4 linked regions of the Homo sapiens genome follow. The protein of the gene in region 4 interacts with the protein of the main gene of each other region in a pairwise test. Each region holds a gene or a part of one and is shown on either strand. Other genes may lie near its edges.

What was found.
Region 1: the proteins of RCHY1 (region 4) and NLK interact in binary tests that used the Homo sapiens proteins (3 or more experiments, as listed by UniProt).
Region 2: the proteins of RCHY1 (region 4) and HEXB interact in binary tests that used the Homo sapiens proteins (3 or more experiments, as listed by UniProt).
Region 3: the proteins of RCHY1 (region 4) and SEMA4C interact in binary tests that used the Homo sapiens proteins (3 or more experiments, as listed by UniProt).

Annotation. Positions count from the first base shown.
Region 1 is NC_000017.11:28,038,638-28,045,690, forward strand, and holds the start of NLK (serine/threonine-protein kinase NLK), read left to right. Parts: upstream 1-4,039; 5' UTR 4,040-4,236; coding exon 4,237-4,694; intron 4,695-4,700; exon of another isoform or gene 4,701-7,053. UniProt on the Homo sapiens protein: Serine/threonine-protein kinase that regulates a number of transcription factors with key roles in cell fate determination. Positive effector of the non-canonical Wnt signaling pathway, acting downstream of WNT5A, MAP3K7/TAK1 and HIPK2.
Region 2 is NC_000005.10:74,709,232-74,716,254, forward strand, and holds part of HEXB (beta-hexosaminidase subunit beta isoform 1 preproprotein), read left to right. Parts: intron 1-4,274; coding exon 4,275-4,404; intron 4,405-6,278; coding exon 6,279-6,459; intron 6,460-7,023. UniProt on the Homo sapiens protein: Hydrolyzes the non-reducing end N-acetyl-D-hexosamine and/or sulfated N-acetyl-D-hexosamine of glycoconjugates, such as the oligosaccharide moieties from proteins and neutral glycolipids, or from certain mucopolysaccharides.
Region 3 is NC_000002.12:96,867,075-96,874,967, reverse strand, and holds the start of SEMA4C (semaphorin-4C precursor), read left to right. Parts: upstream 1-4,887; 5' UTR 4,888-4,932; coding exon of another isoform or gene 4,933-5,940; intron 5,941-6,218; coding exon of another isoform or gene 6,219-6,383; exon of another isoform or gene 6,384-6,549; coding exon of another isoform or gene 6,550-6,594; exon of another isoform or gene 6,595-6,955; coding exon of another isoform or gene 6,956-7,081; coding exon 7,082-7,190; intron 7,191-7,893. Other genes in the region: collagen alpha-1(I) chain-like, read right to left, coding at 4,933-5,940, 6,219-6,383, 6,550-6,594.
Region 4 is NC_000004.12:75,490,394-75,497,416, forward strand, and holds part of RCHY1 (RING finger and CHY zinc finger domain-containing protein 1), read right to left. Parts: intron 3,787-7,023; coding exon 3,708-3,786; intron 1,541-3,707; coding exon 1,496-1,540; intron 1,390-1,495; coding exon 1,331-1,389; intron 1,245-1,330; coding exon 1,218-1,244; exon of another isoform or gene 1,190-1,217; intron 309-1,189; coding exon 188-308; intron 1-187. UniProt on the Homo sapiens protein: E3 ubiquitin-protein ligase that mediates ubiquitination of target proteins, including p53/TP53, TP73, HDAC1 and CDKN1B. Mediates ubiquitination and degradation of p53/TP53; preferentially acts on tetrameric p53/TP53.

The sequences.
Region 1 (7,053 bases), on a different chromosome or scaffold from region 4:
TATTATAGTACTATACTAAGCGCTGAAAAAGAAAGTTTACAAAGACTAAGCTCCTTTACTCTAGGCCTGTGCTTCTTAAGCTCTAGCGTTTGTAAGAATGACCTGGAGAGCTTGTTAAACAGATTCCTCCTCTCCTCCTCCAATTCTTATTCAGTAGGTCTGAGGTGAAACCAGATAATTTGCTGAACATCTAAGAAGCTTTTAGGAAACTACACTTTGGAGGAGAGTGCTGTGCATTGGAAAATTGGAAACATCTCAAATATTACATGAGGGTGAGTGTTGAAGAGAATTTATATTGCATTTTCACTATTTGCCAAGCACGTTTAAATACATCACCTCATTTAACCCTCATATAGACCTCATGAGTCATGTATTATTTCAGTTGAGGCAACTGAGATTGAGAAAGGTTAGTTAAGTTGCCTAAACTATAGAGTAAGTAAATGGCAGAGCTTGGGTTTGTACCCACTTCTGCACTCAGTAATTCAGGCAAATCTGTAGCAAGTGTCTTCTTTTTTTTCAGGCACTGTCCTAAGGAACTGGGCATACAACATTGAGTGAGACAGACAAGCTCTCTGTCCCCGGTCAAACTCAACAAGCACTTAAAATATCGATATGAGGGAGGCAGTGTCATGGAGATATACAACAGAAACGTATACTCTAGAACAGAGTTAGAACTTTCCAGGAAAAAAAGTAAAATTTACACGAAGACCTGAGGGATGAATTAGAGCAGTGAAGGATGAGCGGGAAATGTTTTGGGCTGAAGATATACATGAAGGCTTGAAAGCATTCAAGGAGCTGCAGGAAGTTCAGAATGTCTGAAGTGTGGAGTGGAAGGGAGAGATAAGACCCTTGAGGTAGGTAGGCAGGAACCAGATCATGCCAGGCTATTTAGGGGTACAGCCAGCCTTTTTTTTTTTTTGACAGGATCTCACTGTCACCCAGGCTGGAGTGCACTGGTGGGATCTCAGCTCACTACAGCATCTACCTCCCTGGCTCAAGCTATCCTCCCACCTCAGCCTCTTCAGTAGCTGGGTCTAGAGACATGTGTACCACTAATTTTTGTATTTTTTGTAGACACGGGGTTTTGCCACATTGCCCAGACTGATCTTCTGAACTCAAGGGATCCACGTACCTTGGCCTCACCAAGTGCTGGGATTACAGGTGTGAGCCACTGCCCCTGGTCTCAGATTTGTATTTTTAAAAATTTACTATGCCCCCAGAGGGGGATGGATCAAAGGAGAGCTAGCTTGCAGGCAGGGAAATGGTTAAAGATGTTAGTGGTGTAAATTTGGGTAAATGCTGTGTGACTGGGAAGTAGCAGAAGTGAGGGGGATTTAAAATTGTTTAAGACTTGATGATTCAGCCTGGGCAACATGGCAAAACCCCATCTCTACAAAAAAATACAAAAATTAGCCAGGTGTGGTGGCATGTGCCTGTAGTCCCACCTACTTGGGAGGCTGAGGTGGGAGGATCATCTGAGCCCAAGAGGTGGAGGCTGCAGTGGGCTGTAATCATGCCACTGCACTCCAGCCTGGGCAACAGAGACCATGTCTCAAAAAAAAAAAAAAAAAAAAGAAGACTTGATGACTGATAGATTGGAAGGGACAATGTGGACAGGCAAAGGAGGGATCGAAGATGACTTCCAAGTTTTTGAGTAAACTATACAGTTTCAGTAGGGATAAGGTTCTGTAAGCTTATTATTTCACATTTTAAAGGAAGGGTAAATTCAGATAAATGAAGTGATGGAAAGATGCTATTTTAGTAAGATTTCAATGACAGAAACTTACTTGATAGAAAATATGGGAGAGGCTGGAGGCGGTGGCTCACGCCTGTAATCTCAGCACTTTGGGAGGCCAAGGTGGGAGGTGGGAGGATCTCTTGAGCCTAGGAATTTGAGACCAACCTGGGCAACATATTAAGACCCTGTTTCTAAAAAATTAAAGAATCAGCCGGGCATGGTGATGCACATCTGTAATCCCAGCTACTCGGGAAGCTGAGGCGGGAAGATTGCTTGAGCCGGGAGTTGGAGGTTGCAGTGAGCTAGGACTGTGCCACTGCAGTCTAGCCTGGGTGACAGAATGTGACCCTGTTAAGAAAGAAAGATAGAGGAAAATTATTATTTTTGTGGTCAAGTTTACTTTTTTTGTTTTAATTTGCACCAACAGCTTTATCATTTGTCGACAGTGGAGTTCTGAATGCCAGAGATTCCTCCTCTTTTTGCCAAGATCAGGATTAACTATGGAGAGGACCGGCCGTAGACTACGAACTGTCAGTCTACTGAGTTTCTGTCAGTCTTTTGAGTTTCCTTTGTCTTCTTGTTGAGTGACCTTGGACCTTGAGTTTCTGAAGCTCAACATTCCCTTTTTCTTCCCCTATTTTTTACCCCACACTTTACATCTTAAGTGGGATATTGGACATCTCGGATCAGTGGACCAGTGATGATTTGGACTCCGCCTTCTTCGTCTAGGTCCCGCCCACTTTAAGACCCCACCCCTTCCCTAAGCCCCGCCCCTTGAAGAGGTTGTCTCGATATGACAGCAAATTCTCCACAATCCTGTCCTATAGGAGATCTAAAGGGTGGGACTTACATCAACCTTTTTTTTCCATTTGTTTTTTCAAGTGTCTATTTGGCCCAGGTTCCATCCCACTTCATTTTCAACCCAAGGATTGGTTACTCTGTTCTTTGTCTCTGGCTCATGATTGGTTCTTTCGTTCCGCCCCTCTCTTCCAGCTTTTGCAGGCGGGATTACCACGCAGCTTCCTGCTCCTGCCAAAAAAAAAAAAATAAATAATAAAAGAAGAAGAAGAAAAGAGGAGAGAGGCGAAAGAAAAATGTCACAAAGATCTTTGCTTTTTAATTGGCTTTAAGCCTTGTCGGTCAAGCCAAACTCTGCCTTTGATTGGTCTTTCTATCTGCCCATCCCGGATCGGGGGCGGGATTTCCCCGGAAGACCCACACCTTGTTGCCACTGGCCGAACAGTGCGCCTGTCTGAAGCTCCTGGCCCAGGATTGGAGGCGGTGGCGGACAGGTGGGCGTGGATTGGCTAGGGCAGCCGGTCCGTGCAAGGCGGGGGCGGGGCCTCGGCGGCTGGTTGCGCGTGTCCGACGCTGGCTCCGCTCTATCCGGCTTTGCTAGGGGAGGTGAGTCCGGCCGCGGCGGAACCGGCGGCTGAGGAGGCGGCGGCTGAGGAGAAGGCGGCCGCGGCGGCTGAGGAGAAAGCGGCCGCGGGGACGGAAGCCGGGTGGGGGGGAGGGGGGGAGACGGAGCAGCCTTGAGCCCTGCGGGGCCGTTGCGCGGGGGACCCACCCGCTCTCCCCCCCAACCCTCCTCAGCAGAAGCAGCCGGCGGCGGGGGCAGGAGTCAGCCCGCTTCCGACCGTACCCCGCCCGCCTCCCGGGGCTCCTGTTCTTTGGCCCCGGGACCCTAACCTTCTCCCGGGGCGGTTCCCTCCGTCTGGGCGTCCGAGCGCTGCCCACATCTTTCATTCCTCCCTGCACCTCCTTCCCTTCACTTTTGCCCCGGCTCTCTTTCTCCTCTCTGTCCTGCTGTCGCCTCCTCTCCTCACTCCAGCCTCCTTCCCTGGCTTATTCTGCCCAGGAAAGTTTGGAACCCCCGCCCCCCCTCCCCAATCAGGTCAACCTGACTAGGAGTAGGGGGAGATGTAGGAAGGCCTGAGAGTTCGGGGGGGGGGAAGCTGGAAGCTGGTTTCCCAGAAAATTTCCCCCCATCTTCTCCATTTAGGGTGGTGGGAATTTTTTTTAATCCTGTTTTTGAGGAGGTGGTAGGTGTTTAGAAAAGGATGTGGGAATGGAAGGGGTAGATGAGTCAACCCTCTTTCAAGATTCCAAGGGTGGTGTGTTACCTGATCCTTTTCGTGTGTGGAGTTCAGGGGGTCGGGAGGTTTGGCCTTTATTCCCACATTCAAAGTTGGAACCTCCCCCAAATTAAGAATGGAGTTTTAGTACCCACTTGTGGCAGGAATCCTGGGGGGAAGGGGTCCTTTTTTCCTTTTTCTTTTCTTTTTTCCCTTTTTTTTCCTTTTGGCAACCCACACCCTTCCACACACGCTCACCCCAAAATTAAACACCAAGATCCTCTAACTTGTTTGGATTGACTGATGAAGACATAAAGCTCTATGTTTTTTGAGGTGGAGTGAGTGGTTTTTCTTCATTTTTAAATGGCCAAATGACAGCTTGACCCAGTTTGCTTTCCAATCAAAGGGCATTTATTTTGAATGTCTCTTTGTGGCGCAAGAGCCAACGCAAAAATGATGGCGGCTTACAATGGCGGTACATCTGCAGCAGCAGCAGGTCACCACCACCACCATCACCACCACCTTCCACACCTCCCTCCTCCTCACCTGCACCACCACCACCACCCTCAACACCATCTTCATCCGGGGTCGGCTGCCGCTGTACACCCTGTACAGCAGCACACCTCTTCGGCAGCTGCGGCAGCCGCAGCAGCGGCTGCAGCTGCAGCCATGTTAAACCCTGGGCAACAACAGCCATATTTCCCATCACCGGCACCGGGGCAGGCTCCTGGACCAGCTGCAGCAGCCCCAGCTCAGGTACAGGCTGCCGCAGCTGCTACAGTTAAGGCGCACCATCATCAGCACTCGCATCATCCACAGCAGCAGCTGGATATTGAGCCGGATAGACCTATTGGATATGGAGCCTTTGGTGTTGTCTGGTGAGTATCCAAAGAAAAACACAACCTCTCATGGTTTCTTCTGTTGGTTGTCATTGGATGAGTCCATCTCTAATGGTTGTCTCCATGTTGACCAAGGTGCAGCAAGCTTCTCAACCCAACTGTAGGAAGCCACCCTCACTTATGTGGTAAAGAGGCCTAATGCATTGGCTGTCTAGGCTCATGGCAAGTTTTGGTGGAGCGCCTTCTCATGAGCAACACACATAAGTGTGCTGTCTACCAAACTTTTCTATTAGAACCTAAGCAAGCCACTGAACACAGGATCAGTAGATGAATGTATGCAATACTAATTCCTACGAAGACCTTGGTCATCTCGTGTGTTTGATTCAGTGGCCCTGTGGCATTAAGTGTTAGCACCTGATCCAGACTGAATTCCTTTATAATACTCTTGTCATTAGGATATACTTTGCATAACTACTTTCCTGTCCTTTCTGTCTTTTCACTTATTTTGTGATCTTGATCTCCAGAAGAAAGATAGGATTCATAGTTGAACCAGTTAAGATCATTGCTTGAGTGGTTTATTTTAAACCATAAAGCTACAGTTGAGAAGTATGTAGCTGTAGCCTTTTGATAAGAATGCATTAAATATAGCATCACACATGAGTACCACAAATGAGGTTAGTAGACTAGCTATGCAGTGGCCCACATTCAGTGTAATGTTTTAGTGTCATTTAGTGCCTCTTAAGTTGCTGTTATCTGTTGGTCAGTTGCTGTAGTAGGAAATAATACTTTTTTAACAAATGACCCTACCTTTGCTAGTGCTAGGATATTTGTAAAAGCCTAAGGGCTTCTTAAATATAACATTTTGGTCTATTTGGTCTAACCTTAGAAAGATTAGTAGTTTATAATAAAATATGTTTGTTCCTATCAAAACTAGAATGAACTGGGTTTTCTCCCAAGGACTAATGATTCCACTTTGGATAGATGAATTGATATTTTCAGTGCATTCAAAAATTGTTACTCCCGAGAAAAGCGCCCATTACCACAGGAAAATGAACTCTTTGGAACTAGCCCGGTAAATATCTCCTTTCGTCATTGTTTTTGAGGCTAAAATTGATGGGTGCATTGTTTATGCATTTTAACTGGCCATCTTATTTATATTTCAGATTTGATAATCTAGGCTGCTAAGTGATCTCATCCATTTTTTAAAAAAACTAGTAGAGTCCAGTGTTTTCTCAGCTAGTCCCCAAGGAAGTTTCTGCTGCAGCGTGGTCCTTTCTTCAAGGTGTGTGGGATTCAAGGTGGAAAAGAGTATAGCTGGTAATGGTGCCTTGGTCATTCTGCTCAGGGACCTGCCTGTTCCTGCCTTCCTCTCTTCCCTTCCACAGACTATCTCAGAGATTTAACTGTGAACTTATCCTTGCCTAACTCTTGAGGATTTCCAAGCTTTGGTTGGGGGATGGAACAGACAGGAAAACGGTTGTTCCTTGGTTTAAATTTTGTCATTGATTTACTAATAACTTTTAGCACTTGTTTGGATCTTCTTAGATCTGGATGCTTACTTTCTTTTTTAGTGCCTTACATACAATGCTAAAAACTAGGGATACTGAAAGGGAAATGGGTTGCAGCATTCTTGAATATATTCAAAAGGCATTTTTCACTTACATTTCTATCAAAAAGTGATGTGACTTGTAGCAGTTTTTATTTTATTTATTTATTTTTTTAAGGAAGGGGGCAATAAAGAACTGGAGTGCTGAAACATCTCACACAGCAAACGTTCTGCTAGTGGGTACTATGAATCTTTGATATCTGAAAGCCCACATATATTTGGTTTGAAGCCATTCTAGAGGTTTTTAATTGATTGACTGCTCTACCACCTATGGAGTTTGTCTCATGTACTTAAAGTACACCTCTGTGCACCATCTTACTTCAGGTTTGTCTTGTGTCACTGACTACATTCGTAAGCCCCTTGAGGGTAAGGATTGTCTACTGTAGTAATCCTTTTCTCCTCAGCGCCTAGCACAGTGCTTTGGCATCTTTGCTGCTTGGTTAATTGATCTAGTCAGGTCCTTCTTTGTTTTGGCTTAAACAACAGAAAATTATTTCTCACAGTTCTGGAGGCTAGAAATCCAATATCAAGGTACAGGTTTGGTTTCTTTTGAGGCCCCTCTGCTTGGCTTGTGGATGGCCGTCCTCCTGTGTTATCACGTGATTCGGGTCTTTGTTTTTTTAACCAAGTTTTTCTAGTTAACTGCATTGAGTGTTTTCATCAGCTGTTACAGGTGAAATACAATTTGGTATGAAAAAGGAAAGAGTTCCAGGTGTATGTTTTAGTATGCAAATGCTTTTCTATTTTTATATTTACATGTCAATGACTTGCTGTCTGAATTCCTTATTATAT
Region 2 (7,023 bases), on a different chromosome or scaffold from region 4:
CTTTGAAACCAACAAGAACAAAGACACAACATACCAGAATCTCTGGGACACATTCAAAGCAGTGTGTAGAGGGAAATTTATAGCACTAAATGCCCACAAGAGAAAGCAGGAAAGATCCAAAATTGACACCCTAACATCACAATTAAAAGAACTAGAAAAGCAAGAGCAAACACATTCAAAAGCTAGCAGAAGGCAAGAAATAACTAAAATCAAAGCAGAACTGAAGGAAATAGACACACAAAAAACCCTTCAAAAAATTAATGAATCCAGAAGCTGGTTTTTTGAAAGGATCAACAAAATTGATAGAACGCTAGCAAGACTAATAAAAAAAGAGAGAAGAATCAAATAGACGCAATAAAAAATGATAAAGGGGATATCACCACCAATCCCACAGAAATACAAACTACCATCAGAGAATACTACAAACACCTCTATGCAAATAAACTAGAAAATCTAGAAGAAATGGATAAATTCCTCCACACATATACTCTCCCAAGACTAAACCAGGAAGAAGTTGAATCTCTGAATAGACCAATAACAGGAGCTGAAATTGTGGCAATAATCAATAGCTTATCAACCAAAGAGTCCAGGACCAGATGGATTCACAGCCGAATTCTACCAGAGGTACAAGGAGGAACTGGTACCATTCCTTCTGAAACTATTCCAATCAATAGAAAAAGAGGGAATCCTCCCTAACTCATTTTATGAGGCCAGCATCATCCTGATACCAAAGCCGGGCAGAGACACAACCAAAAAAGAGAATTTTAGACCAATATCCATGATGAACATTGATGCAAAAATCCTCAATAAAATACTGGCAAACCAAATCCAGCAGCACATCAAAAAGCTTATCCACCATGATCAAGTGGGCTTCATCCCTGGGACGCAAGCCTGGTTCAATATACGTAAATCAATAAATGTAATCCAGCATATAAACAGAACCAAAGACAAAAACCACATGATTATCTCAATGGATGCAGAAAAGGCCTTTGACAAAATTCAACAACCCTTCATGCTAAAAACTCTCAATAAATTAGGTATTGATGGGACATATCTCAAAATAATAAGAGCTATCTATGACAAACCCCCAGCCAATATCATACTGAATGGGCAAAAACTAGAAGCATTCCCTTTGAAACCTGGCACAAGACAGGGATGCCCCCTCTCACCACTCCTGTTCAACATAGTGTTGGAAGTTCTGGCCAGGGCAATTAGGCAGGAGAAGGAAATAAAAGGTATTCAATTAGGAAAAGAGGAAGTCAAATTGTCCCTGTTTGCAGATGACATGATTGTATATCTAGAAAACCCCATTGTCTCAGCCCAAAATCTCCTTAAGCTGATAAGCAAATTCAGCAAAGTCTCAGGATACAAAATCAATGTGCAAAAATCACAAGCATTCTTATACACCAATAACAGACAAACAGCCAAATCATGAGTGAACTCCCATTCACAATTGCTTCAAAGAGAATAAAATACCTAGGAATCCAACTTACAAGGGATGTGAAGGACCTCTTCAAGGAGAACTACAAACCACTGCTCAATGAAATAAAAGAGGATACAAACAAATGGAAGAAAATTCCATGCTCATGGGTAGGAAGAATCAATATCATGAAAATGGCCATACTGCCCAAGGTAATTTATAGATTCAATGCCATCCCCATCAAGCTACCAATGACTTTCTTCACAGAATTGGAAAAAACTACTTGAAAGTTCATATGGAACCAAAAAAGAGCCCACATTACCAAGTCAATCCTAAGCCAAAAGAACAAAGCTGGAGGCATCACGCTACCTGACTTCAAACTATACTACAAGGCTACAGTAACCAAAACAGCATGGTACTGGTACCAAAACAGAGATATAGATCAATGGAACAGAACAGAGCCCTCAGAAATAACGCTGCATATCTACAACTATCTGATGTTTGACAAACCTGAGAAAAACAAGCAATGGGGAAAGGATTCCCTATTTAATAAATGGTGCTGGGAAAACTGGCTAGCCATATGTAGAAAGCTGAAACTGGATCCCTTCCTTACACCTTATACAAAAATCAATTCAAGATGGATTAAAGACTTAAACGTTAGACCTAAAACCATAAAAACCCTAGAAGAAAACCTAGGCATTACCATTCAGGACATAGGCATGGGCAAGGACTTCATGTCTAAAACACCAAAAGCAATGGCAACAAAAGCCAAAATTGACAAATGGGATCTAATTAAACTAAAGAGCTTCTGCACAGGAAAAGAAACTACCATCAGAGTGAACAGGCAACCCACAATATGGGAGAAAATTTTCGCAACCTACTCATCTGACAAAGGAAATATCCAGAATCTACAATGAACACAAACAAATTTACAAGAAAAAAACAAACAACCCCATCAAAAAGTGGGTGAAGGACATGAACAGACACTTCTCAAAAGAAGACATTTATGCAGACAAAAAACACATGAAAAAATGCTCATCATCACTGGCCGTCAGAGAAATGCAAATCAAAACCACAATGAGATACCATCTCACACCATTTAGAATGGCAATCATTAAAAAGTCAGGAAACAACAGGTGCTGGAGAGGATGTGGAGAAATAGGAACACTTTTACACTGTTGGGACTGTAAACTAGTTCAACCATTGTGGAAGTCAGTGTGGCGATTCCTCAGGGATCTAGAACTAGAAATACCATTTGACCCAGCCATCCCATTACTGGGTATATACCCAAAGGACTATAAATCATGCTGCTGTAAAGACACATGCACACGTATGTTTATTGTGGCACTATTCACAATAGCAAAGACTTGGAACCAACCCAAATGTCCAACAATGATAGACTGGATTAAGAAAATGTGGCACATATACACCATGGAATACTATGCAGCCATAAAAAATGATGAGTTCATGTCCTTTGTAGGGACATGGATGAAATTGGAAATCATCATTCTCAGTAAACTATCACAAGAACAAAAAGCCAAACACCGCATATTCTCACTCATAGGTGGGAATTGAACAATGAGAACACATGGACACAGGAAGGGGAACATCACACACTGGGGACTGTTGTGGGGTGGGGGAGGGGGGAGGGATAGCATTGGGAGATATACCTAATGCTAGATGACGAGTTAGTGGGTGCAGCGCACCAGCATGGCACATGTATACATACGTAACTAACCTGCACATTGTGCACATGTACCCTAAAACTTAAAGTATGATAATAATAAAAAAAAGAAATGCTTTAAATTTTAAAAAAAAATTCACATTTCTCCAACTGTCTTTTTCTCTTATTTAAAAAATTATTTTAAAACATTTGCAGTGGGATACAAATAAGCTCCATAATTGTGGTGAGTTAATATGTCTAGTAATTCTTTTTTGATCTACAGGTCTGCTCTTCCCACCTTTTTCTCCTGTAATTGTTGTTGAAGAAACTGAGTCATGTGTCCTACAGTTTCCCACAGTCTGGGTTTTGCTGATTGCACCCCACAGTGTCAATTAATATGTCCCTGTATTTACTATAAACTGGTAGTTGAATCTAGTCTTGATAGAAATTTGATTTGCAGTGCTGGGAGACAAGACTGCTTTTCCGCAACTGAGCACTTATAGGCCATAGTTTGAGAAATGTGCTAAGGAACAGCTCACAACTTTAGTTACAAACAATATTGAGTTCTAATTTTTCAAGTGACCTATAAAGGGACTGAGGTAATCATTAAAAAAAAACAAGTCACTTATTCTGGAGTCTATATGGGAATTTTTCAAGCTTATAGTAATTCAAGCTGATAGTCCTTTGAAGGACAACAGCTATGCTTTGTAATAAGGTGTGCATTTTGACTCTAAAATTGACAAGAGCAGTGTTTTCGGAAGTTTCACTTTGGAGACATTTGTTTTGTTGTATTCTTACATGGAAGTTGAAACAGCATGATAGTAGAAACTCTTGAAACAGGAGGCACTGATGGAGACAGATATTTCTACCAGTAAATCTGCGGTTAGCCCAAAGTATACTGAGAATTTATTGCTAAAATATGGTAAACAAATGATTTGACAAAAGCCCCAAAATGGCTATCATCCTTTGAGTATGTACGACTTAGTAGAAATTTTCTTTCTGAAATTTTCTACTCCTGAAACTATGGCACTATATTATTTTTAAATGAGTCATCTAATATCACATGAAACTAATACATTGTCATAGTGAAAAAATTAGCTGTCAAATATCAAATGCAAGCACAATTGTTAACAATTTCCAGGATCAAATCTACGTTGTACATTTTAACTTGAATAAATATGGCTTTTACAGGGAAGCTATTCTTTGTCTCATGTTTATACACCAAATGATGTCCGTATGGTGATTGAATATGCCAGATTACGAGGAATTCGAGTCCTGCCAGAATTTGATACCCCTGGGCATACACTATCTTGGGGAAAAGGTAAGGAGTTGTATTTTATTTCATTTTATCTTATTTTTTATTTTTTGAGATGGAGTCTTGTTCTGTCACCCAGGCTGGAGTGCAGTAGTACAATCTCGGCTCACTGCAACCTCCACCTCCCAGGATCAAGCGATTCTCCTGCCTCAGCTTCCTGAGTAGCTGAGACTACAGGCATGCGCCACCATGCCCAGCTAATTTTTGTTTTTGTTTTGTTTTGTTTTTTGAGACGGAGTCTCACTCCGTTGCCCAGGCTGGAGTGCAGTGGCATGATTTTGGCTCACTACAACCTCTGCCTCCCAGGTTCAAGCGATTCTCCTGCCTCAGCCTACTGAGTAGCTGGGACTACAGGCGCCCGCCACCACGCTAATTTTTTGTATTTTTAGTAGAGACGGGGTTTCACCGTGTTACCCAGGATGGTCTTGATCTCCCCTCCTCATGATCGGCCCGCCTCGGCCTCCCAAAGTGTTGGGATTATAGGCGTGAGCCACTGCGCCTGGCCAGGAGTTGTATTTTATAAGTTGCAAAAGTGAATATTTGAGGTATTGCATTTCTTATTTTATGACCTAGTGTTTGCTCATTTTGTTCTTAATTGTGATTGGCCTATCAGTAATACTATTGACAGATACAATTCAATAGCTACTCTGTGTCTATTGTGAGCAAGTCATTGTGATTAGGTACTGCCTAAAGTATAAAAAAGGGAATGAAAGAAAACAAAAAGTGATTACAAAAAGTAGAACATGATAAGTGAATTCAAGAAATGGTTTCATAGATGAGGTAACACTTAAAATGCTTTTGAGTGATCACAGAATATATTCATGTTTCTGGTAGAGGAAATGGCATAAGGAAATGTGTGCAAAAAGTGTAAGATATGCTTGACAAGTATGTAGCTGGAGTAGAGTGTAGCAGAGTAGGAGGCATTATAGGGTGGTGATTAAGAACTTTGGCTTTGGAGCCAGACAGCTTGGGTTTGAATCTTGCTTCTGCCATTATAAACTAGGTGACCTTGGGCAAGTTACAATATCTCATCTTCAGTTTCTCCATCTCTAAAATGAGAATTAGTAGTAGCTATCATGTAATTTTTTTGAGAATTAAATAATGTAAAGCACATAGCACAGTACCAAGCATTTATAATTGCTCAATATTATTAGAGTAGACATGGGGAATAGTGAGAGGTAAATCTGGAAAAGCACATTAGCGGGCCTTTGGTGAGGAATGTGAACTTCATCAGGACACACTGGAAACCAGTGAAAATTTCTGAGCAGAGGAGTAACATGATGGGAACCACACTTTGGGAAAACCTTTGGGAAAGTGACAGATTGGAGTTCTGGACCAGGAGGGTGATAGTGGGAATGTAAAATAATGGACAGAACTGAGAGACATTCTGGAAATATCCATAGAATTTGGCAACTGATGGACTCCAGGAGAGAGGAGGTATATACTCTAGGATGACGATGGTACCCTTATTAGAATACGAAAATCAGGAGAAGCTAGAGAAGGGAGCTTAAGGACTGCAGATGTTGTTTTTTGTTAGCTTGTATTTGAAGTACAGCTAGGATATTCAGTTGTATCCAGCAGGGAATTTGAAATATGAATTGAAGCTCAAGAAAAAGCGTTGAGGCAAACTGAAGATTTGGGAGTTACTAACATTTGACATAGATAAAATCTCAGATATAATGGGAAACAAAGAGGCAAAGAGACAGGATTCAGGAAACCCTTCTTATCTGGAAGAAATTACTAGCTCTTAGTAAACATGTTCATCTTTTGTGTATAAAATCTTGTAGCTTCAATAAAATGACGTAGTAAAATCATGTGGAAAACCAGATCTTTATAATGAGTACACTTCTTTTAAAAAGAATCTTAATATTTTCTTCTAGGTCAGAAAGACCTCCTGACTCCATGTTACAGTAGACAAAACAAGTTGGACTCTTTTGGACCTATAAACCCTACTCTGAATACAACATACAGCTTCCTTACTACATTTTTCAAAGAAATTAGTGAGGTGTTTCCAGATCAATTCATTCATTTGGGAGGAGATGAAGTGGAATTTAAATGTTGGTAAGATGATTCCTTAAAACCCCTTTAAAAAAAAAAAAAAGAGAGGCTGGGTGCGGTGGCTCACGCCTATAATCCCAGCACTTTGGGAGGCAGAGGCAGGCAGATCACCTGAGGTCAGGAGTTCAAGACCAGCCTGGCCAACATGGTGAAACCCCATCTCTACTAAAAATACAAAAATTAGCTGGGCGTGGTGGTGGGTACCTGTAATCCCAGCTCCTTGGGAGGCTGAGGCAGGAGAATCTCTTGAACCTGGGAGGAAGAGATTGCAGTGAGCTGAGATCATGCCACTGTACTCCAGACTGAGTGACAGAGTGAGACTCCATCTCAAAAAAAAAAAAAAAAAAAAAAAAATGGAATAAAAAACCTGTTGCATTGAAGTAGCTGTAGAGGGCTCCACACCATAAGGAAGACTTAAGAGTAACATGCCTGCTTGTAAGGGTTTAAACTGGGCAACATGACTCCTGAGATGGTAGATTTGTGGAGAATGTACATTTTGGTATGGCAAAGTAAAGCTTGAGGAAAAACAAGATGCAGAAGAAAATGGAGATTCAAAAAAAGACTACT
Region 3 (7,893 bases), on a different chromosome or scaffold from region 4:
GCATCCCCAGAATGCTAGGAGCTGGGGGCATCTATTATTCAGGGGCACGGGCACACGCACAGCACAGTGCTGGATACCACACAGGACGCCTTTCTGCCTAGCAGCCTTTGCCAAATGAGAGGGGGAAGAAACCCTCGGCCAGGGTGACTTAGATGCCAAGCGACCTCCGTGACAGTTCAAGTTTCTGTTCCTGGCTGCGTCACATGCCCCCATGGCCCGGGCACCCCCGAAGCCCCGGCAGCATCAGGTCAACCTCAGATCCTCCAGTGAACGAGCAGGGACTATGGTGAGCCAGCCTCCTTCACCCGCCCTCGGGCTGCCCTGCTCCAACACTGCATGCACTGACAGTTCATCTGTAGCTATTCACTTTTCTCTGGAAACCTGGAAATCACCTTTGAAATTTCCCTTCTTTGTTCTTACTGCCAAGGGCAAAGAGGAAGTAGGGAGGCCTGAGAAGCTAAACAGGGGGAGTTTCCAGTTCTCGAAGGTGGCCCTACCTGGCTCTGAGAAGGAGCCGAGCTGTCCATCAGCGTCGATAACTGGAGCCTTCCTCCCCAGTCCTGGCTCTTGTCCACTGTCCCCTCCTCTACTGCTCCCCAAACATACCCATCCCCAAGAGAGAAATAGATACCAAGGGGAGAGGAGGTGTCGGTGACGACTCAGTCCCTCCAGAGACCTGGCTGTAACCCGAGCAGAGGTGTGCACTGTGAGGTCGCCCAAGGGCGTATGCTGTCCCCTGGGGTGTGTAATGGGCCCTCTCTGGGACTGGCTGGGAGCTGACCAGATCTTCTAAAACTAGTCTGGGATCGGTTAGAGACTCAGCCTCCCCAAGGTCCAGATTTTCACAGTGGTGCTGGCAATGTGACCACTTGCCCTCCAGATCTTTGACTTTTCCAGATCCCTAAGCCCTTGGGAAAAGGCTGGGGGATATCCTGATAGGAGCCACTGGAAAATCCGCATCCGGGGCTGTGATGACGGATGTTTTCCTGCTTCCTTTTGGTACTGGTGACAGGGAGGGGCTGGGAAGGGAAAGACATCCCAGGTGGGCAGCTTTGATAACTCTCCTTTGGAGGAAGTAGGGAGGGAGAGTCCTTTTCCTATGTCCCTAGTCACCTCGGTCCCCAGGCGCGCTGACCCAAGCTTTCTCACTTCCCCATCTGTGGGATGACGGCAGTCCTGGCTGCCTTGGAAATCCACCAGGCAGCGTTCACCAGAGAACCCAGTGTCCACCCAGGGCCTCCCTCTGGCTGCCTCAGGAGAGCTAGTAGGTGAGTAGCTCAAATGAAGGGCAGTGTGGCCCCCAACCAACATCAAGAGATGGGAAGGGGGACTTGCTTTTCAGGAAAGACTCTTTAGGTCATCTCTAGGGGCTGGCCTGAGCTGCTGGGTGATCTTTGAAGACCCTTGAGAGTCATTTAGCACAATTTCTGTGTCTTTCCTTGACACGACCACAAGCAGTTGTCAAGGCCTGAGTCCCAAAGTGTGGATACCTTCCATAGATATGCTAGGCCCTAGGGAGACTAGTCAGGTACGTGCACCTCCCCCCACCCCCGGTACCTGTATTAGTAATTTTTTTATTAATTGAAGACCCAGAAATCTTTTTTTTATATCAGTTGTACTTTCATTTAGAAGTATGAATCATGAGCAAGTAGTCATGCAGGAAATTGTATCCTCTGCCCACCCACCCACAGAAAGGGCCAGTGCTGGAATGGACAGAATACAGCAGGAAGTGCATGAAGGTGGAAAAGGGGAGGGAGCTGGGAGCTTATCTCCGAGAGCGTTTGGGAGGATAGGCGCGTGGAGTCTGTTAGCTGGAGGCTTCTACATTCCTGGGCCTCCAGAACCCAAACGCCTGCCGCTGCCCTGCCAGTGAAACCAAACCGGTTGCCTTTTGAAACTTTCCACTGAGGCCACCTTGGAGTCAGAGCCAGCGAGCTCAGGTCTCTCCTGGTAACCTTCACACCTAGAGGTGGGGGGATGGGGGAGCAGTATTGAAGGTGAGGAAAAACAGCATGAAATGGAGCATTGTCAGGATAGATGGTGACTCTGTGGAAAAACAGAATCGGGAGTCCCAAGACCTGATTTAAAAATCTGAACTTTCCAGTCTGAGCAATATAGCGAGACCCTGTCCCGTGTATGATGGTGTGCACCTGTAGTCTTGGGAGGCTCACGTGGGAGGACCGCTTGAGCCCAGGAGTCTGAGGTTACATTGAGCCATGACTGTGCCATTGCACTCCAGACTGGGCAACAGAGTAAGACCCCGTTTCTAAAAAAGAAATTCTGACCTTTTTATCTCCATGACTTGGGGCTAGTTGTTTAATCTTTTTTAATTATCTCCATGACTTGGGGCTAGTTGTTTAATCTTTTTTAATTATCTCCATGACTTGGGGCTAGTTGTTTAATCTTTTTGACTCATCTCCAAAAGGGGAGCAACAATACTTATTTTTTTAATTTTGTCGAGGCAGGGTCTCGCTCTACAGGCTGGAGTGCAATGGCACAATCACAGCTCACTGCAGCCTCAACCTCCTGGGCTCAAGCGACCCTCCCACTCCAGCCTCCTGAGTAGCTGGGACTTACAGATGCATGCCACCACGCCCCCGCTAGTTTGGTTTGTTTGTTTGTTTGTTTGTTTGTTTTTGAGACAGAGTCTCCTTCTGTTGCCCAGGCTTGAGTGCAGTGGAGTGATCTTGGCTCACTACAAGCTCTGCCTCCTGGGTTCACGCCATTCTCCTGTCTCAGCCTCCCGAGTAGCTGGGACTACAGGCGCCCGCCACCACGCCTGGCTAATTTTTCTGTATTTTTAGTAAAGACAGGGTTTCACCATGTTAGCCAGGATGATCTGGATCTCCTGATCTCGTGATCCGCCTGCCTCAGCCTCCCAAAGTGCTGGGATTACAGGCGTGAGCCACCCCTCCCCGCCACGCCCCGCTAGTTTTTTTTTTTTTTTAATTTGGGGCTGGGCGTAGTGGCTAATCCCAGCACTTTGGGAGGCCTAAGCAGGTGGACCACCTGAGGTCAGGAGTTCGAGCCCAGCCTGACCAAAACGGCGAAGTCCCATCTCTACTAAAAATACAAAAATTAGCTGGGCATGGTGGCGCATGCCTGGTCAACATGGTGAAACCCCGTCTCTACTAAAAATACAAAAATTAGCCAGGTCTGGTGGCAGGCACCTGTAATTCCAGCTACTTGGGAGGCTGAAGCAGGAGAATCACTTGAACCCAGGAGGTGGAGGTTGCAGTGAGCCGAGATCGCGCTATTGCACTCCCGCCTGGGTGACAGAGTGAGACTCTGTCTCAAAAAAAAAATAATAATAATAATTTCTTTTGTAGAGACAGGGTCTCAGTATGTTGCCCTGGCTGGTCTTGAACTCCTGGGGTCAAGTGATCCTCCCATCTCAGCCTCCCAAATTACTTACTTTTTAAAGGGTGGTCATAAGGGTGAAGTAAGAAAATGTACATCAAGACAAGCTGCAAAAATCTAAAGCACAGAACACAAGTGAGGGCACTTGCATCTCAGTTTACCCTCCGCTTGAATAGATACGGGGAATAAACTAAACACGAGGGTGACACACCTTCTCCCACCTTGTCAGCTGAAGCAGGAGGCCTTCCCTGCCCACCCCATGGTCATTATCTCCAGCATCTCCAAGGCCACAGCTTTTTTTCTTTTTCCTAGTGGAAAAGAGCTGGGAAACGTGGCTTTGGCCAGCAAGGGAGAAGGGGCCATTATGTGTACCAGCAAAGACCCGATTGTTACTGAAACCAAACTGGGCTGCTTTTCTCAATTATCTCCACCACTTTTCTGGTCTCCACTTTTCAGATGCCAAGTTTTAACCCAGAACAAAAGCTGCTGTCGGACTGATTTATAATCCAGATCTGCTGACGCAGCCTGAAGTGTTCCTCCCCTCCAGGACTGCACCCTGGCTTAAAGTTACCTCCAAACCTCAGGACGTCAAGCCCCTTCACCTCTGCCTTTTGCCCCTAGCCAGGAGGTAGCATCTGTCTCCAGGTGCCCGTGGGGTGTCCTCCATGAGGACCACCTCTTCTAACCACCTGCCCAGCTCAGAGGACCAGCTGGCAGGAAAGACGCTGCACCGCCCATGAGGCCAGAGCTACAAGTTGCTTCTAGGAGTGGCTGTGGGCGGAGGCTGGTGGTTCTGAAGGTGGCGGTGGTTCTGCAGCGTGGCTCCCCACAGCCCCTTTCATCTGAACAGTAGGGCTCATGCCACTTGTTAATCAGCCTTCCAGTGGCACGAGGAGTCATTTTCTGGGGATAGGCGCTTTGCCCAAAGCGTGAGAAGCAGGAGCAGGCCCTTTCTGTTGATTGAAGGGTCTTCCTGGCTGGTGAAGCCCTTTCCAGACTTGAGGGCAGGGACCAGTGGTCCTCGGGGCCTAGAAAGAGGCAGAATTGGGGGCCAAACGGCAGACCCCTCTGGTCCGCCCCAAAAGACGCCTCGGTTCCCCCAGCGTGCCTCCCCTGGATACTCGCCTCGACGTGGCTCGCCCGCGGTCGTTCCTGCAACTGCACGGTCGGGAGTCCCTCTCCCCAGCCCAGCCCGCCCGGAGTCTTCGGGGGACACTTCAGAAAGATCGGGTGAGTGTGATTCCCCCGTGGCCATACCCGGAGTCCCTCCCCCGCCCCACCTCCCTCCAGGCGCTGTGGCGCAGCCCGCGACTCCGAGCCCCGGGGCTGCTGGACACCCGGAGGGGTTGAGGTCCGGGCACCCAGAGAGGCGGAGGTCCGAGCCCCCGGGCGGAGAGCGGGCGGGTCCACAGGTCGCTGCGGGTCGCAGCCCCCTCCTGAGCGAGCCTTCGCGGCCCGCCCCCGGCCTCCGCTCGACCCCCCCAGCCTGACGTCAAGGGGAAGGGGGCGGAGAGCCGCGGCCGCGCTGGAGAAAGAGCCGGCGCCCGCCGTGGTGGCGCGGGGAGCCCGAGCCTAGGGGCGCGGAGCCGGGCGGGGACGGAGGGGCGGTGGCAGAGAGGCCGCGGAGGGCTGGCGGGCGAGCGCGGGCAGGCGGCGACGCGGGGGCAGGGGTGGACGGCGGTCAGAGCCGAACGCGAGGGCGGCGCCCGGGGACTGGAGCTGCGCGCAATAGGTGAGCGAGGCCGGGCTTGCGTGAGGCTGGAGCCGCGGGGCCCCGGAGCCGCCGCTTTGTCCCTTTGCTTGGGCAGGGGCTGCCGGACGCGGGAGGGACAGGGGCTGGGGCGCGGGGAGCCGCGGCGGCGGAGACGGCTGTACGCGGGGATCCTTCCTGCGACCCCCGCGGCTGCTTCGCAGGGTCTCGGGAGTGGGGCGCACAGCACCTGCAGCCCCGCAGCCCCGGGGCCGGAGGGGCGCGCCAGCGAGGGTTCCTCGCGCGGTCCGGTCCGCGGCCGGGATCCTCGCCAGGCTCCTGGACTGCCCTCGGCGCTCCCACCCCCGATGGAAAGTTTGGGGCGGGCTTGGAGGGAGGCCGATGTTGTGGGATCGGATTTCCCTGCCGCGGCCCCCCGCCCGCCCGCCCATTCCGCTGGGGAGGCGGGTTGTCCCGGAAAGCCAGGCCCCCGGGCCGAGCCGGGCCGCGCCGTCCCCGGCTGGAGCGCTCGCCCTGCAGGGAGGGCCGCGGTCCACGGCTGGCCGCTCGGGGTGGGCGAGGGTGTGGGGTGCCCCGCCTGGATCCCGCACCCCTCCCCCCAACCCCTCCTCCCGGCTGCCCGTTTCCTCGCCCTGGGGGGAGCTGCGGGTGGGAGCACCGCTGCCGGGCGGATCCTCGGAGCACGCCACGGGGTGCGGCCCGATCCTCGGGTAAGGAGCCGAGATGAGGCCGCGGGCGTTTTGGGGGGCTGGTCTGGGGCGCAGCCCCCGCTCTCCCGCGCCGGGGCTCTGGGCCGACAGGGGGCGTCCGCAGGCCGGGCTCGCCACGCTCCCCGCGCCGCCGCTTTGTTTGCGTTCAAATCCCTGGAGCTGGGGGAGGGGAGAACCCGGGGGGACCCGGGACGGGGTCTTGGCGGGGACCCTTTGTTTGGGGGTGAGCAGGTCCCCAGCTTCTGCGTCTCCGCCCCTGGCACGGGAAGGCTGGAGCAGGGGAAGCCAATCCCGCTGGCCCGCCCAGGCCAGGGTCCCTGGGGCGCAGTCCCCGAGTTGGGAAGGTTCGTCAGAGTCGCGGGAGCGCAGCGGGTGCCGGCCGTGCGCGGCGCGTTGCCAGCGGCCCGGGAGGAACCCCCTCGCGTCCCCGCCCCTACCTCCCCCCGTCGCCTGCGCGCGCCGCCGGAGTCCCCGACTCGACCCGAGCTCGGTCCCCCCACCGCCCCTCCGCCAGAGGGCTGGTGTTTCGGAGGAGGCAGTGCGAGGAACAGGATGAGGCCCTGGTCATTTCCACGCCCATCCCACCCACTTCCTGCCTCCCTCTTGGGCAACAAAGGGGCCTCGGGAAGCTGGGCCCCTTCGCTCCCGGCCCTTCTCACACTCCTGCCCTGCTGATGTGGAACGGGGTTTGGGGTTCTGCAGGGCTATTGTCTGCGCTGGGGAAGGGGACAGGCCGGGACCGGGACCTCCGCTCGCAGCCGGCCGCACCAGGTTTCCCCTTTGGGGCTTTCCCGACCGCCTACCCCACCGCATGCCCTCGTCGCCCTAAGGAGTCTTCCTCCCAGAATTAGGTGTTGGCAGGGTCCGGAGCCCCAGTGGCTGCAAGGCCTGCTGCCTGAGGTTCTTTCAAGAAACTCAAACCTCTTAGGCCTGAGTGTGTATGTTGGGCGGGGGTCCCCTTTTTATTTCTCAAATGATTTCCTGTTGCGCAGAGGTAGTGGTGGGTCTGGAGGCCAGGGAGGGCTTCCCGGAGCCTGTTTAGCCTTCAGCCAACTCAACTCCTCCCCGCTTCCCAGGGAGACCTGTGGTCTTTTAGGCAGAGGCCAAGTGTGGGGACTTAGGTCCACCTCCAAAGAGAAGGGGAAGGAGGGCACCGGGGCTCCTGGAAGGCCTGATGAGGAGTCCTGTGGCCTCTCCTGCTGCGGGCCCCTCTGGTTTGCTTTCTCTGGCTGTGATTTCTGACCATGTCTTTTCCCTCAGCAGGACAGCTGGCCTGAAGCTCAGAGCCGGGGCGTGCGCCATGGCCCCACACTGGGCTGTCTGGCTGCTGGCAGCAAGGCTGTGGGGCCTGGGCATTGGGGCTGAGGTGTGGTGGAACCTTGTGCCGCGTAAGACAGTGTCTTCTGGGGGTGAGTGCCTGGAGGGGTGAGGAGGAAGTCAGGGACAGGCTGCTGAGGAGTTGCCCCCATAGTGTGCTGGCTTTATTCTCACGTGTGTGGCACAGCTTTCTAAGAAACTCGAGTTGGAAGAACGGGCAGTGTGGGTTGGGACCTGGGATTAGCCTCCTCTGGGGGAGCTCTGTCCAACTCCCCACCCCAGACTGCCTGCCCAGGTGTGGGAGGGGGAGAGCCTTCTGCCTCGCCCTCTCCACGCCTCGCTTCTTGAATTGTCACTGGCGCTGGGAGCCTAAAGAGAAACTGGAACCGGGATAAATATAAACTGGAGGCTCTCTCCCCTGGCTCCCCAGGCCCCCCTAAGACCTCCTACTGCCCTGTACACATCATACACTCTGGTGGCCCTGGAAGTGTGTGTGTATGTGCACATGCTCGCATGGTTGCCGGGGCACAGCGGGGACCCAGCAGTGCTCCCTGTGCACACACCCGTGTGAAAGGTGATGTCAGGTGTTTGTATCAGCCGTGCGCTCTGGGGACCTGGGATGAGCTCACCTCCCACAGGCTCCACTCGGGTGCCAGTGAAGCCCTGCCATGCCGGTCTGTGTCTGGATCCATTGTTGCCTGCAAAGACTAAGGCTGGTTTGGGGGGACCCTGAGGACAGGTCGGCAGCCATATTTGGCAGCTGATGTAGGAATCACGTGACTGTATAAATGTCGT
Region 4 (7,023 bases):
TTTTTTTCCCGATCTGAGCTACTTAACTAAAATTTAAAAATCATTTTGTGCTTTCCATTAATCATCACATTAGCATCTGTGTCAAACCAGTATATATATATTTTTTTTTTGGCAAATTCAAGCAGGAGGGCAAAAATAAGAGTGCCAACAAGGAGTCTACAAAGTTTTAAGTATTGATTCTACTCACATCCACAGTCATGTTCTGATATTCTGATGGCATAGGAGTCTGTGCTACTTCATCATCCAGCTGTCTCCAATACCTGGTCATATCTAAAGCAGAGTGCATACATAATGGACATCTGTAGCCTCTGAAAGAGATAGAAAGGTTATTTTCCAAATATTAAACAAGAATATATTAATTCAGGTATACAAGAAGATGCAGGCTAACTGCCACATGAACCATTCAAAACAGGCATTTTCCTCCATTTCAAGATAATCTCTTAGGAACCTGGGAACTTTCACACTATAAAACTTTTAAATTAATTCCTGTATACTTATTTAAAACTAAGTCTTTTTCCTCAGTACTCTAAAATGGAGAGGAATTAGTCCATATTCTTTGTAGAATACACTTCATATATTTTTATAAACTAATTAAGCTACTCCTTATCTAAACAACCTTAATTTCTTAATACACTCATGTAAAGAGACTGTATTTGTTTAAAATTATTCAGATATTATTTCCTTTCTAAAAATTTGAAAAAAAGAATGCTCTCTCTAGCTCTTCACATTTTTGCTCATCAATATGTAGGACCAAAATACAGTCTTCTCTTTTCAATTATTTTCATCTAATTTTAATATCTTTTCCATTAATAAAGTCTTAGCTTTAATGATCACTTCACCTACTTTCTTTTAGTTTACTATACTTGGCCAATATAACAACCTAACAAATTTTTGGCAATATTTTTCAGCATTTTTACAACACTATAACTGCATCTGGCAAAAACTGCACTTCCTGGTATATATGGCCAGAAAAAAAAGAGGTAACTACCTCAAATTGTGGGAGGAGACAAGATTTAAGAGAAACATATGGCAAAAGTGTAGTTCTATATCCAAGACACTTTGTCCTGTTTTAACAATATTCATCTACCCTACCCATTTCAATATAAATATTGCCATGCCCAATATAGTATAAGTAACAATGTTTGTCCACCTCCCCACACCACACACACAAAAAAGTCAAACATCTTACAATTATTTTTAAAATCCCAAACACTCACTCTTTCAACATTTCTTCATAACACGTTCTGAAAGAAAATATAAGATTATTTTAGTAAAACAAAAACTGTCTCCACTATTTTCAAACATCATTGAGAAAAAGATGTTACTTTACCTATGTAAAAGATGTCCACATGGCAAGACATGAGCAACAACACGGGATGTGTGAATGTCCTGTAAATGAAATAAATGTTAGTGCTTGTATGAAGACAATATAAACATCCAAGTATTTTAAATTCAAGAGCTGAGACTTCCAAAGTAAAAAATATTTTAAGCCTACCTCCAAACATATTGGACAATTCTGTCGGGACACATTTTCAATACACTGTTTAAAAGAGAAATTCACATTAACAAAAGCTTAACTAGATTAAAATGTCAGGTATAAAAATATTAATAATAAAAATTAACAAAACCAACTTACTAAAAATAATAGCTAACATTAATATATGCTTTTTATATGTAAGAAGAGTTTTTTAATAGTTATTTAAATCTCACACTATTTCAGGCTTGGCATATTATCTGATACAATGAAAATGTCAATAAACATTATTGAGATTACCTTCATTTCACAAATAAGGAAAGTGACTTAGGAATTCAAGACACTTACCCAAGATCCAAAGATAATAAGATTTGGAACCTTTGCATATTATGTATGTTTTACTCCAAAGCCAGTGACCTAAATTAGTAAGCTCAACTTACTAATAATATTGGTAATAATAGTTCATATTATTGAAATTTACTACATGCCATGTTCAGCACAGTACCTGTATAAGATCAATTAAATCTCACAATCCTAGATGAAATAGGCTATGATTGTTATACCATTTTACAGTTAAAGCAGTGGAGGCCTAGAGAAGCTAAGGAACTTCCAAAGTCACACATTAATAAGAGGCAGAATTAAACTGGAGCTCCAGCAGGCTAACTTCAGAGCCAGAGTTCTTAATTTGACAAGATGTAATGTCTGATTAAATCCAAGGAGGTAAGGGAAAGCACTGTGCCATGGAAGACTCCCAGGTTTTTAACGGAAGCACTTAATAGATGGCAGGACCACTTAGTAATATAGACAATAAAAGATAACTGAAAAACAACATAACAAAAAAAACCATAACAAAAAAATAGATGTAAGTTTTTGAAAGATGACAGTATAGTGGGGAGAAAAACCCTCAAAATAATAAGCTTAATAGTAAGTTTAAAAATCTAGACTGTAATCCTAGCTCTGCTATTTACCAGCCCTTGAGATTTTGGACTAGCCACCACTTTAGTCTTAACGTTTCTTATTTATAAAATAAAATTAATACATATTTCATTTGATTCTAAAGTGCACCTCACACATACATTTTAACATCCCCACAATTACAACATATCTGATCATCAGTGGCATCTCTGAGTTGATGGAATGTAAATGCTGAGGTGAGGATGCAATGAATTAGTGTGTGCACACACACTACACATGCTTTGGAAACCAGAACATCATAGAAATGTAATCTATAAGATACTATTGACTCCTGGCTATCTCCATTAGCATAGCTTGCCATCACCCCAAACTCAAGTTTAAAAACCAAACTCAATCTTTTATCTTCAAAAAATTTACAATCTACTAATCAAGTACCTTAAGCTGGGGCTGAAAATCTTCAGAGTCATCTTTACTCTGCCTCATTCTTTTTCCTTAATACCATTACCACATCATATATGTTCATTATTCATCTCAATTTTCCTCACCACTTTACTATTTAGGCCAAGTTCTAGCTAATATTATATTTCTGCAATAACTTCTTATTCTTATATTCTATCGAACCTACTATACTGCTAAGTAAATGATTTCAAACAGTCTCTTTCCAATTAATGTCTATCTGTCTCTCTCTCTCTCAACAGCTACAATGTTGCTACTTATACTGTTCTGCCTTATCTGGAATTTCCTATACTTGAACAAGTACGATTTACACTTCACTTTACACCAATCCTCCATTCTCTTAATTAAATTCTTACAGTAGATAGAATCAGTACTATAATGTAATACTTTATTAGATTTTTTTTTAAATAATGAAAAAGGGCCTGGGATTGTGACATAATTCCTACATCCAGATTTAAAATATGTATGTCTTAATTATAAAAAGAAATAGTAAAATATTTTCTGAATTTTCTTAGAATGTTGTGCTAATTAGGTTACACCATTCAGTATTTCTCCTGTTTTAAAGTTATTCTTAAAAGCAGTACCAATGGTAAGAATCCATAAACTAACTTGGAAGTTGCCAACATTATGCTAGTAAGTGATATAAGCATTCTTACACTACAGAGAAGAAAAGGAACTGTAGGTCAGATATTCTGAGGTACATATTTTAAAATATCTACTTGTTAATACTGCTTTTCAAAAAAGCAATATAGTTGCACTTGGAAATACATGAAAATTAGCATGCTTCCAAAACATATTAGAAGTTAAGCTTATTGCAAAAACACTGTAATATTTTTAAAATTATACAAACTAAATTATATACCTTGTGTCTTCCTTGAAGATTCATAGCTAGGCATAAGTTACATTTCAAACAATGGAAAAAATCTTCCTTTGGACCAATCCTAGCAAAACACATGAAAGCCAAAAGATTAGATTATTTTTTACTACAGTCATGATTTGTTCATTATGTAAAACACAAGTTTAGTCTCTGTAAAAAAAATTTCCAGCCACAATGGAGAATATGGGATAAATCCCTATCTCCCCAACATCCCTCTCCAAATGTAAGCACTATACACAGAGTGGTATCTACCCTTCTAGGGCTTTTTTTTCTTTTTCTATAAAATTGCAAAAAGAGAGAAACACAGACACACACACACATTTCGGGTTTGATTTCTTACATTAATGGATTCTTTCTACAGATGCCATTCTGCAACTTTTTTTCACTTGATATATTCTGAGGATTTTATGTCTGTCTACACAGAACCACTTCATTCTTCTTAATAGCTACATTAATGGCATGGATGTATACTAATTTTTTTAAATATTCCCTCAGAAAGATCATAATTTATGATCTTTAGTTGCTACAATGATACAGTAAACATCCTTGTCCAGACATCACTTAGTTCACATGTTGATTATTTTTTACGAGATTCCTAGAAGTGAAACTACTGAGTCAGAAGATGTTGCAACATTAATTGTGATACTGCCAAACTGACCTCCAAATAGACAGTACCAATTTATACTTCCACCAACACTGCATGAGAGTAACCATGTTCCCCACACTTTGGGTAACATGGTTACTTGTATTATAGACAAACAAAAGATGTCATTTTAATTTGCATTTCACAAATAATGAGACAGGGACTGTACATTAATGAACTACTTGGATTTCTCTGTGGATTGTCTGTTCATATGTTCTGTCCATTTTTCTACTGAAGTATTTGTTTTTAACCAATTTACTGGTAAAAAATATATCATGAATATTAGTTATTTATATAATGAATATCAATGTTTTCATTCGCATGTATTATATTTATATATCACCAATATCAATTTTTTATTTGCATATTTTATATTTACTTTTCTGGTCTGTGATTTCTCTTAACTTTGTCATATAGCCATTTTTAATTACTATGTGGTAAAAAGTCATCAATATTTTCCTGTATAGCTTATGCTTTCTGCCTCTTGTTTAGGAAACTTTTGTAACCTATAGATCATAAACAGACTCTCCTATGTATACTTCTAGTACTTACAGCTTTTCATTTTTATATTTTTCTTTAATCCATTTGAAATTTGCTATATATGGCAAAGGTTAGATTGCTACTTGTCCCTAAATTTCTATTCTCCACTTCTTCTACAATGATAGGGTATTTAGCTAGGCACTGAGCTATTCAGAACTGTCCTGAATAAAGACTATTTTCCAACATACCTGGACGTTGGGAACAGAAGAGATACATGAAAATTCTGCATTGTACCCTCAAGAGGAAAAATATGCCTTCCCTTCACCTAACTAGCCTTTCTACAGACCAGAATATGAGGCATTTTAGACTACAGAGACAAGAAAATATCTTATGGGTGACAAGGCAAAAAACAAGAAGAGCCTGAGTTCCTGTTTAGCTACACAACTCAGATTTATTTCCATGAGAAATGAACTTCTGCCTTTCTTGAACCACCATTACTTTGGGTTTCTGTCACAAGATGCTAAATCCATACTCTAATGAATACAGTTTGAAGAGTCAATTTTTGGTTTCCGAATGGATAATCAATTATCTTAATACTACCCTTTCCTGATTTGAAATGTCACTTTTGCCATAAATTCATATGTATAAATATTTGTCTGTGTATATACACACACACATATTTATCTATTCGTCTATTCCTGCACAAACAGCAAACTATTTGAATTACTATAGCTTTATCATGTTTTGATATGTGGAACGGCAATCCACTCTTCGTTGTCCTTCCTTCAAAATTTACTCAGCTATTGTGAATTTTCTCTTACAAATGAACTTTAGAATAGGCTGTCAAACTCCATAAGTAAAATTCTGCAGGGACGTTTCCACTACTGCCAAAGATAGAATAACGGAGATCAGACCTACCCTCCCATCTGAAAAAATAATGACAAAAGACAGAATATATGAAACAGCAGTTTCACTGAACATCAGGCAACAACACAGAGTGATCTGTGAGAGATAAGAAACAAAGTAAGTGAGCCCTAAAATTGCTCATTTATTGCCTAGAGAGTTTTGAGGCCAGGACAGGTTAGAAGAACTAAGGGTGAGCTAGGAAGACATCATGATTGAAATGATGAGCTGAGACAGTCTAGAGAAACCAAGACAGATTCATAGGACAGAGCATCAGATAGGAGAGAGCTGCACAGAGAAACCTCTGAAATATTTAGTAGGATACCCATCAGCACATGGATGTAAGAAAACTACCCAAAGCCAGGGAAACAACCTTCTAAAGAATGAGAACAGTACTACTCACACATGGCTAGGAACAGTGCCTGATCCCATCAAACAGACTGGGGAAACTCATAATTCGCAGGCTCCGGGTGGAGTATTCAGAAGGATATTGCCTCAACAGTGGAGAATAGCCCTGGGATAAGCCCTTCTGTAGATCTACCTAACAAATTAGAAAAGTAAATCCCAGAAAGTCTAAACTGTTTCCAAGTAACTTAACTGCATCCCAAAATAAAGCTCAAGAAGATTTATAGGAATACAAAAATACCCAGCACTAAACATGATAAAAAGAAAAATCACATCTGATATCCAACCCACAATAACCAGGCAACAAAGAGGCAGAAAAACACAACCTAAAATGAGAAGAATAATCAATCAATCAACCCAGAACAGACACAGATGTTAGAATTAATACAGGGCATTAAAAGTTATTATAACTGTATACCATTACATTAAAAAAGTATTAAATATGAAAAATATGTTTAAAGACCCAGATCAAACTTCTAGACATAAAAACTACAATGTCTGAGATTTAAAAATACACTGATGAAACTAATGGCAAGTTTGATATTGCTAACAAAAAGGTTAGTCAACTTGAAGGCACAGTAACAGAAACTATCCGAAATGAAATAGGAAGAAAAGGGAATTTTTTTAAAACGACAGAGCATGAGTAAGCTGTGAGACAACTTCAAGCAACCTAACATACATGTGTTCAGTTGAGCCTAACGCTGCCTCCTACATATTTTAAGATCGTCCTAAAAGGCTTTGCTGTACATAGTTAACTGTAACCTAACTGGATGTGTTTACCTACAGTAACCTACTCTAGTACCAATCAATCACCAAGTTTCATCCAATCACAGGCAGTCCTCGGTTCAAACTGTGTTTAAATAAGGCAAA